3 linked regions of the Homo sapiens genome follow. The protein of the gene in region 2 purifies or fractionates together with the protein of the main gene of each other region. This does not show direct contact. Each region holds a gene or a part of one and is shown on either strand. Other genes may lie near its edges. The genes, in order: PYGB, FYB1 and FER.

Region 1 (3,659 bases), on a different chromosome or scaffold from region 2:
CGAGAAATGCCACTTACCTATACCTAAAATTACATGTCATTCCTACTCAAGGTACTGTTGAAGACACTGTTAACCGAACTTCTCTTACTGTCCAATTACCTTTCTAAATCTGTGTTCACTTCTCTTCCCTTCACCGTATCCTAAGAATGCCATTCTGCATGGGTGAGAAAAAGCCAGCTCCTATCTCCTGCGGTTATTTGCTGCATGTCTTAGGATGCTTTGAATTTCCAAATGGCTTAAAGCTTTGATCCGTTTAATAATAATAATAATAAAAGATATAATCTGAAAAGACTTCTAAAGTTCTCCCAATTATTTATTTGTATTTTTTACAATTGTATTATTGCATTTTATTTGTATTTATTAAGCAGGACAGCTGGTGACACTGAAAAGATTTGCAGACAACAGCACTGTGTTGATTAAAATGTCCAGAGTTTAACTGCTCTACTGTGGGTGTGTAGGAGAGCTTCCCTGTTTTTCCGGAGTACTCACTGCCGTTTTTGGGGGTGAAGGGGCAACAAGGCTATGACTCAGTTTTTTTTTTTTTTTTTGAGACAGAGTCTCGCTCCGTTGCCCAGGCTGGAATGCAGTGGCGTGATCTCAGCTCACTGCAACCTGCTCCTCCCAGGTTCAAGCAATCCTCCTGCCTCAGTCCCCCAAGTACCTGGGACTACAGGCGCCCACCACCATGCCTGGCTAATTTTTGTATTTTTAGTAAAGAAGGGGTTTCACCTTGTTGGTCAGGCTGGTTCTTACTTTCAAATGATTCGGAGAAAAATGAACTTACAGCGACAAAATGACCTAACAAGTGTGTTGCAATGTTTAACATCTGGGGAATCCGGATGAAGCGTCAACAGGAATTACAAGAAATCTCTGTATTATTCTTGCAACTTTTTAAGGGTCTGAAATCACATAAAGTTTAAAAGGAAATATGGCTGAGATGTGGAGGTGAGGTCGGTTACCTTATTTTATTTTATTTTATTTTATTTTATTTTATTTAGGCAGAGTTGCCCAGGCTGGAGTGCAATGGCGCAGTCTTGGCTCCCTGGTTCAAGCAATTCTCCTGTCTCAGCCTCCCGAATAGCTGGGACTGCAGATGTCCACCACCACGCCCGGCTAATTTTTGTATTTTTAATAGAGACCAGGTTTCACCATATTGGTCAGGCTGGTCTCGAACTTTTGACCTCAGGTGATCCACCTGCCTCAGCCTCCCAAAGTGCTGGGATTACAGGTGTGAGTCACCACGCCCGGCCATATTTTATAAAGCCACCACGGCCCCTGTGGATTAGTCAGGGTTCTCCAGAGACACAGAACAGTAAGGTATGTGTAGAGAGAGACAGATTTAAGAAATTGGCTCAAGTGATTCTGAAGTGCAAGGCCACAACCTACAGAGTGGGGTGGGCCAGCAGGCTGGAGACCCAGGCAAGCTGCAGCTCTGGTGCAAGGTAGCTGGTGGCAGGGTTTGTTCTGCAAGGCCTTCCCCCATGGGAGGCTGTGAAACTGTGATGTAATGAGATATACTTATTTGTTCTTCCTGGCCTGTGCTCCTAACACCCTTGTAATTTCCTAAGTGATAAGAGCAATAAAAATGAAAGAAGTGTCTTTTGTTATTCATAACAAGTCCCTTTCAACCACGCCTGATGTGGTCACCAAAAGGTGACTTTTGGCAAGCCCCTCAGGGCAGAGGCTGGCTGCCAGGGGAACCAGCTCTAATTAGAGGGTTGGAAGTTTCAGGCCCACCCCTCCCGCCAGCCCCAACCTCCAGTGAAGGGAGAGGGGCTAAAGGCTGAGCTCATCACCAATGGCCAATAATCACACTAGGTAACTGCGGCCTCCATAAAATCCCCAACTGAAGGGGATGGAAGAGCTTCCTTCCAGTTCAGTGAATCCTGGAGGTGCTGGGACAGTGGCACCTGCAGAGGGAATGGAAGCCCCTGCACCCTCCCTCAGACCTGCCCTCTGCATATCTTCTATCTGGCTGTTCCTGGGTTGTATTCCTTGTAAGTAATTGGTAAACGCAAGTGAAGTGTTTCCCTGAGTTTCATGAGCCATTCTGGCAAATCATCAAACCTGAGGAGGCTGTCGGTCAGAGGTCAGAAGGGAGGTCCTGATGTGCAACTGACATCTGGGGTGGAGAAGTCTTGTGGGACTGAGCCTTTAGCCTGTGGGATCCGAGGCTACATCTAGGTAGACAGCATCAGAACGGAACTGAATTGTAAGATGCTCAGTCAGTGTGGGAAACACCACCCCCCGACCCCCCCAGAGGGACATCCACGTTACTATCTAGGCACAACAGCCAAGTTGACACATAAAACCAGCCACCACAGCCTGCAAGGGCAGAGGCCAGGCTGTCTTCTGCAGAAAATGAAGGCACACACTGTAGGCTTCTCCATCTGCTAAAATGACAGCTGAGGCCTACCTTCCAAGTGGCTAGCTGTCAGCAACACAAAACAGCACCCACCATCAGCTACTGGTCAGAGAAAATGACTTTGAGCGATCTGCTGTCAGGGAAGCCTGCCCAGGAGATGCAAGCTCAACTTCACACATAAAAGTGGAAATACATCAGAAAAATTGGGAGTGTTAGGATTCCGGAGGCTGGTACCACAACTGACTAATTAAAACAAATCCCAGAAGTGGGGATCACAGAGCAGAAGGGTCTGCAAAACACTTCTCTAGATCATCTTCTTTAACTCCTGGGTCCAGCCAAACCAAAAGATTAATCGTATTTCATTGTGTTTATCTCATTAGGAATATTTAGGACAGCAGTGTGGGCCCCAAGGTAGAGCTGCTTTTCCTTAATCTGTGTTGTAGTCATGCCAGGAGCTTATGGGAAGAGTCTCAAAAACTGATTGTTACATCCACTGCAGGGGTGCTGCAGGTCAGTGGCTCAGCACATCGACAACACAGCTTCACAAAGGCCCACAGAATAAACCGTGCAACTGTCCTTTCAGGATGTTATAGAAGGGATCCCGTGACTCTCATAACTGGGCATGGGCTGCTTTCACTGCCAGGATCCTGGTCTGTGTTTTGTGTCCTGACCCTCACTGTCCCACCCCAACCCTCACTCTGAGGCCTTCTAATGTGAACCTTTTGTGCTGTATCTAGCATAAGCATCCTCAAATTCTCTCTGGATAGAGATGGAATGTCAATTCAATATGAAATAGAAACATTTTAACTCTAACATTTCAGAATGGCAACAGACTTCGGAAACATCACCAGCTTGATTCCCCTCATTTTAAAGATGAGAAAACTGAGGCCAATAATGGCAAAGAAATCCGCCCAAGCCCACAGTTGCACAGACCGAATGGAAAGGCCAGGATGAAAAGGAGCGTGGAATCACGCACACCCTTTCTTCTCCATGCAGCGCAATCCCAGGCTCTGCAGCTTCAGGTTGGACTCTCCTTGCCACCTTGCCACCACTTCAGAGAATCCATTAAATGTCTTCATGACCAACCGCCACCTCTTGCCAAGCACAAAGCTCTCCATGTTAGCCAGATGTTTTGACGTGCTGATTTGCCAAGCATGGCAAAGCTTGACAAATCTTCCTCTGAACACCCCAACTTCTACTCTTTCGCTATGTACCACAAATAAAGTGCTAAGAGTTATGAAACAATAGGTTCAGTATAATGTTATTTTATGTATTAAAAACAAGTTTCTGCCAA
Region 2 (3,565 bases):
AGTACCACCCTAGAGAACAGTCATAGTGAATTTACTGTTTTTATAAATGCTAAAAATAGCTTGTTGGATTAGAGACTTCCAATCTGATCAGAATTTGAATCACTTGAAAATGTTAGAAAAGGTAAATGCCCTGGCATAATGGGGGGAAAATACCGCATTTCCCACAAGATGGAAAATTAAGGAAAAACCTTATTTATTTCTTTGAAAACAGAAGTATAAAAATATTTGGGAAATTTTTTATTGTACTGTGACTCATAATAAGAATTTCTTTTATCCAAGCAAATAAACATTTTTGGCAAATAAATAGGTACTTATTTCATAACCAGTAATACCAATATTCTCTAAGCATCATATAGTTCCAAACTGTAATCTAAAAAATTAATCTAACTGAAATGATGCAGTGTTGATCATGATTTCCTTTAGTCTTTTAAACTTATGAGTCTTGCTCTTTAATATCTTCAACCTCGTTCAGAGTGACTACCAAAAAGTATATGACTAAGTGCCACATAAAATAATCTTGAGTCTCATTTTAATAGAGAATAAATCTGTCCAGAAATTTTGTTGAATTATATACTAAATAATAAAAGTTAAATATATGATCTTCCATTTAACTCATTTTTTATAAAGTGAGCCAGTTCTATTTTTTTTAATCCTTAACCAGGAGAGTATGAATCACCCACATTTCCAAACTTGGAATACTTAGAGAATATGTTTTTAATAACTATATTTAAATTTGTATTTTTTCCTTTCAGGCTGCATCTATGACAATGACTAGCACTCAACTTTGGTCATTCTGCTGTGTTCATTAGGTGCCAATGTGAAGTCTGGATTTTAATTGGCATGTTATTGGGTATCAAGAAAATTAATGCACAAAACCACTTATTATCATTTGTTATGAAATCCCAATTATCTTTACAAAGTGTTTAAAGTTTGAACATAGAAAATAATCTCTCTGCTTAATTGTTAACTCAGAAGACTACATTAGTGAGATGTAAGAATTATTAAATATTCCATTTCCGCTTTGGCTACAATTATGAAGAAGTTGAAGGTACTTCTTTTAGACCACCAGTAAATAATCCTCCTTCAAAAAATAAAAATAAAAGAAAAAGGAAAATCATTCAGGAAGAAATGACCTGTCTAAAAAAACCTAAGGAAGAATAATAATATAAGAAAGGAAATTTAAAAACATTCCACAAGAAGAAAAATTATTGTTTATACTTCTACTTATGGTTATATCTTATATTCTCTATTCAAGTGACCTGTCTTTTAAAAAGGCAGTGCTGTCTTACCTCTTGCTAGTGGGTTAAATGTTTTCAAAAATTATAGCAGTAGTAGAAGTTTTGTATAAAATTTGTCCTTATTTGTTAATTGTATATAAATGTTAATTATTTGATACGAATGTTATGCATTTAGTATGCACATTGAAGTCTAAACTGTAGAAGAGTCTAAAACAAGTTCTCTTTTTGCAGATTCACATACTAATGGTTTAATTCTGTGCTCTGTTTAAAGTACTATTATAACTAGAGTAGATCTGAATGAGGATAACCCTAAAATCATGAGGAATGGAAGAATGGACCTTGAAACTACCTAGGCTTTTATGCATGGCACCTCTTTATAATGAAGACACTTTTTAAAGTTTTTGTTTTTGTTTCAATTACCGCTAGATTTTTTTTTCTCTTTTTTTAAAATCCATTTTACTGGAAAGTTGGCCAGCAGAGGGAGTAGAAATTATTAAAATTCTAGTGTTTGGATTGGGCCCTTCTCTAACAGTACATACTCATTCCCAAAGCAATCCAAAAACAAAATGTGAACCATTTGGGTTTCAAATGTTAAGAACACTAAATAGCATGATTTAAAAAATGAAAAATGCTAACACCCAAGAAAAGAAGATATTAAGTGCTTTTTAACAACTCCTAGAGTACAAAATGAGTACATCATAATGCTGGCTCTTCTACTAATGAACCATCGAGTGATATTGAATAAATTATTTATCTTCTCAGTTTCCTTATCTGTAAATTACAATATTAGACTAAGTAAGTTTTTCCAACTCTTCACTACCAATTACCTTAGGCTTTTATAATGCTCCGCCTACTTCAGTCCCATGTTTCAGAAGCTTTTGTCTATTTTTTAAACTCATTGATTAAATAATGATTAATGCATTCTCCACATTTTAATATTGCAAAGGCCCATTGGAGTTTCTGAAGTGGCTCCACAGAATTGAAATAATTTCAAATAACTGTAAAGGAACTGAAAATCTTCACAGAGATGAAGTGGGGTTTCCATTAGGTGCTTTGAAATTTGATAACAAATCATCAACTTCCACTGGTCAATATATAGATTTTGGGTGTCTGAGGCCCCAAGATTAGATGCCACTAATCTCCAAAGATTCCCTCCAATTATGAAATATTTTAATGTCTACTTTTAGAGAGCACTAGCCAGTATATGACCATGTGATTAATTTCTTTTCACACTAGATAAAATTACCTGGTTCAAAAGTGGTTTTTGTTTATTAAATTTGGTAATAAATATATATAATACACAGACAGGATAGTTTTTATGCTGAAGTTTTTGGCCAGCTTTAGTTTGAGGACTCCTTGATAAGCTTGCTAAACTTTCAGAGTGCCCTGAGACACTTCCAGCCATCCCTCCTCCTGCCTTCATTGGGGCAGACTTGCATTGCAGTCTGACAGTAATTTTTTTTCTGATTGAGAATTATGTAAATTCAGTACAATGTCAGTTTTTAAAAGTCAAAGTTAGATCAAGAGAATATTTCAGAGTTTTGGTTTACACATCAAGAAACAGACACACATACCTAGGAAAGATTTACACAATAGATAATCATCTTAATGTGAAAGATATTTGAAGTATTAATTTTAATATATTAAATATGATTTCTGTTATAGTCTTCTGTATGGAATTTTGTCACTTAAGATGAGCTGCAAATAAATAATACCTTCAATGGATAACCTTGCCTCCTACTTCATTAAAAAAATTGAGGCTAGCCAGATGCGGTGCCTCACATCTGTAATCCTAGCACTTTGTGTGGCCGAGGAGGGCACATTTCATGAGCCCAGGGGTTCCAGACCATCCTGGGCAACAAGGTAAAACCCTGTCTCTACAATAAATACAAATAATTAGCTGGGTGTGGGGGCACATGCCTGTAGTTTCAGCTACTTAGGAGGCTGTGGTGGGAGGATCACTGGAGCCTGAGAGGTCGAGGCTGCAGTAAGCCATGATTGTGCCACTGTCTCAAAAAAATTTACCCTGTCTCAAAAAAAAGAAATAAATATATTTTTTTAATATTGAGGCCATCAGGCTTCCTCTCTCTTAACTTGATCCTACATCTACAAAACAGTCTTTCTCTGCATCCAACCTTGACTCTAGCTTCAGCCTCAGAAGACGGGATATCTCCTCTTCAAGACCAAACCTTCTACCAAGACTCCTAATACTTTGACTCCTATTTTGTGTCAGAAATTAAGATAACTAAACGCAATTCCTTTCAATTCCCTACAACCTTTGACCTTAACCCATATCCAGACACTGTCCCAGAGAATAAGATGTCATG
Region 3 (2,882 bases), about 70 Mb from region 2:
TACCCCACTGTCATCAGTTAGAACACCCTTGCAAAAACTGTAACCACTTAAGCAATTCATCTGATCCCAGAAGATCATACCTTCTTTTGAAAGTATAGGACAGATATCAGTGGGAAACGTCGGCGTTCTGAGCAACACAGGATAAATGTAGGAGGGCCTTAAAAAATAAATCTCAATTCATACACTGGAGCAGCAAAAAACTGAGCAGGAAAGGAAACAGAATCCAAAGTCATTTTTCATATAGCTGTTGTCAAATAGTATAACCTTGGTGTCTTCTTTGAGTTGCCTGGACAGTATTTATGAAACAAAAAACTAAATGCCCCCCATTTGGGGACGGGGGGAGGGGTTCAGACCTCTAACCTGGATTCAGAGCCTTAGAGGCCGAGAGGGAATCTGGAATCTGGTATTACTGAGATCCTAGGTAAAAGAACCAGCCTGGCAGTCTTTCCCACCTCATTGGTCCGTGCTTTTATTTTTAAACCCAAAAGAAAGAAAGAAACACACCCTCTTATGTAGGAATTTCCCTTTTACAAATAATTTGACCTGGTAGAAATAAACTTGCCTGCCTGCTCTTAAATGCCAGACAGTTGGAAGCAAATGCCGAGGGAAAGGTGCCCAGAGCCATGCTTGATAGGACTTTGAATATTTTCTCCTTAATTAAAGTACGTTGCTTGTATTTAGACTATAAGATGCTATGGAGGTCTATCCCATGCCATGCCAATGTGAATTGCTTTGCTTCAGTAACAATCAGAAGACCAGTCCAACAGAAAATAACTTGTCATAATTCCACCTTAGATTCTAGACCTCTCATACCTGCAGTGTACAGAATATGTACATGTTCCAATGGAATTCACTATTTTTGGCTTTAGTGTCAAAGAGATTGGTTCTACAAGGTTCATCTGATTTCCCATAACAAGTAAATTTTATAATCCTATGATTCTAAATTCAATCCCCAATATAGATTCTAAGCATCAAATCAAAATCACAGACAAAGGGGAACTGGTCGAGAGGGGTCTTAGTTATTTCAAATCCATGACCAAAGTGTCCAAAGACATGAAACTCTTATACCTGCTGAGCATTTCACTTTACTATACAAAATGTCAGCTACCCAGTTGCATCCTGTGACATGATCAGACTGTCAATGTGGACCAGTGGCCAGGAGCATATTTATGGGCCATTTCTGTTCATCATTCTTTACAGAGCATTGAGGTTTCCCACTGAAACAGCTTCTTTAGTCAGACGTCTATAGATTTTACATAAATTTACATTTAAATGCATTAAGTTAGATGGCCCAATTGAGCATCTGAATGAATATAGTGGGGGTTGGTGGTGGTGCAAATTCTGCTGGCTTTATGTTATGGTTTTCTTCGTGTTTTTTCTTGGTTTTGTCTGGCTTCTTCTGGCAAGTGCCCTAAAAGACTGGAACACTGTATAAAGTCATAGACATAGAACCATATGGGAAAGCCCAGATGAAAAAATGGAAGAATAAAATCAAGTTGTCAAAGTTCCAGCAACAGCCCTGACTTCTTCAGGAATCCAAGCAAATTGAAAGCCAAGACAAAATGTACAAATGGTGCCCATGCCATTCATTTGACTGTGGGTGGCCCTCTAGTCTAGGGCTCTCTTAGTGAATGGTTGTGGAAATATGATTTTTCTAAGTTCCTTCCTTTTCCTTTTGATAGATGAGTTTGAGATGATGGAGTAGGAGTGGGGCCCTCAGGCACTTCTGGTAAAGACATTCCACCTGCAAGCAGCATTTTGAGTAAAGCACTGCTGTGGTTTGCCGATTTATGGTCCATTTAATGTTAGGCTAAAGCACCTTTAATCATTTTTGTTGTTTTAAGATAATGTATTTGTGAAGTGGATAAACACTGGAAATAGGGTGCTTCTTCTGGAAAGTTCAGTGTAAAACACAAACAAGGCTTTGGCGGGTTTATCTGGCTTTATAAACAAGTCTGAAAAATGGATGAAAGCTAAATATATAAAGCAGTTGGTTGTCTATCTTTTATCATTTTTACTCAGATCTGTATTTAACACTTATTTATTTGTTAGTTTTTACATTCAAAAGAAATACACTTTGAACTTTGGCTAACATTGTAGGATATTTTTTAATTGTTTCTACATTTTTAAAGCATGATTCATCATTTTTGTAAACTTAGATCATTTTTTAATTGTCTTTTCTTTTCCAATAGACCAGTTACCACTCATGTGTCTGCAGAACCTCTTTATTGTATTCCTATAATAAATGTAAAATATTTGTAGCAAACTGTGCCTTGTCTTATTTAATCTTTCCATCATGTTTATATTTCTCTTCCTTTTCCATATAAATATGCTCCAAGTGGAAGAAAAGGCAGGCAAGATTTCCATGGTAACTGGCCTCCTAGGGATATAACAGTGCATAAAAATTATTAGCTTTCAGTTTCTCTGTAATTAAGCTTATTAGTTCTGATGATAATGGGTGTGTGTTGCTTACAGTCCAATCACTGCTTCCTGTTTAGAAATCAAAACTGTAATGGAGCTCAAGTCCCAGTTATCTGGGTGGATTCGCTATTTGCGTGGATTTTTGTGTTTTACTTTTGGGTTTTTGGGTTTTTTTTTTTTTTTTTTTTTTTTGCTTTTCATAACAAGATTTGTTTGACATAACACAAGGATTTGCGGGAGAAAGATGGCTGAGAGATGTTTGGAAACAGAGGCTGAAGCCTGCTACCCTAGAGCAGTTCAGATGTGTATCCTTGCCTGTCCTGTACAGGACTGAGCTGGTCACAGAGCCATCGCTTAACTTCTAGGTACCCTTCAGTTGGCAAATCGGTAACCTTCCTAAAACTGCCGGCTGTTATTTACATGGATTTTGGGCAACATACACTTCCCTTACATTAAACCAA

Evidence for each region.
Region 1: the proteins of FYB1 (region 2) and PYGB purify together in Homo sapiens (affinity purification with mass spectrometry; one large-scale study listed by BioGRID and IntAct). This does not show direct contact.
Region 3: the proteins of FYB1 (region 2) and FER purify together in Homo sapiens (pull-down; one study listed by IntAct). This does not show direct contact.

Annotation. Positions count from the first base shown.
Region 1 is NC_000020.11:25,250,961-25,254,619, reverse strand, and holds part of PYGB (glycogen phosphorylase, brain form), read right to left. Parts: intron 1-3,659. UniProt on the Homo sapiens protein: Glycogen phosphorylase that regulates glycogen mobilization. Phosphorylase is an important allosteric enzyme in carbohydrate metabolism. Enzymes from different sources differ in their regulatory mechanisms and in their natural substrates.
Region 2 is NC_000005.10:39,104,653-39,108,217, reverse strand, and holds the end of FYB1 (FYN-binding protein 1), read left to right. Parts: intron 1-752; coding exon 753-775; 3' UTR 776-2,966; downstream 2,967-3,565. UniProt on the Homo sapiens protein: Acts as an adapter protein of the FYN and LCP2 signaling cascades in T-cells. May play a role in linking T-cell signaling to remodeling of the actin cytoskeleton. Modulates the expression of IL2. Involved in platelet activation.
Region 3 is NC_000005.10:109,194,576-109,197,457, forward strand, and holds the end of FER (tyrosine-protein kinase Fer), read left to right. Parts: 3' UTR 1-2,266; downstream 2,267-2,882. UniProt on the Homo sapiens protein: Tyrosine-protein kinase that acts downstream of cell surface receptors for growth factors and plays a role in the regulation of the actin cytoskeleton, microtubule assembly, lamellipodia formation, cell adhesion, cell migration and chemotaxis.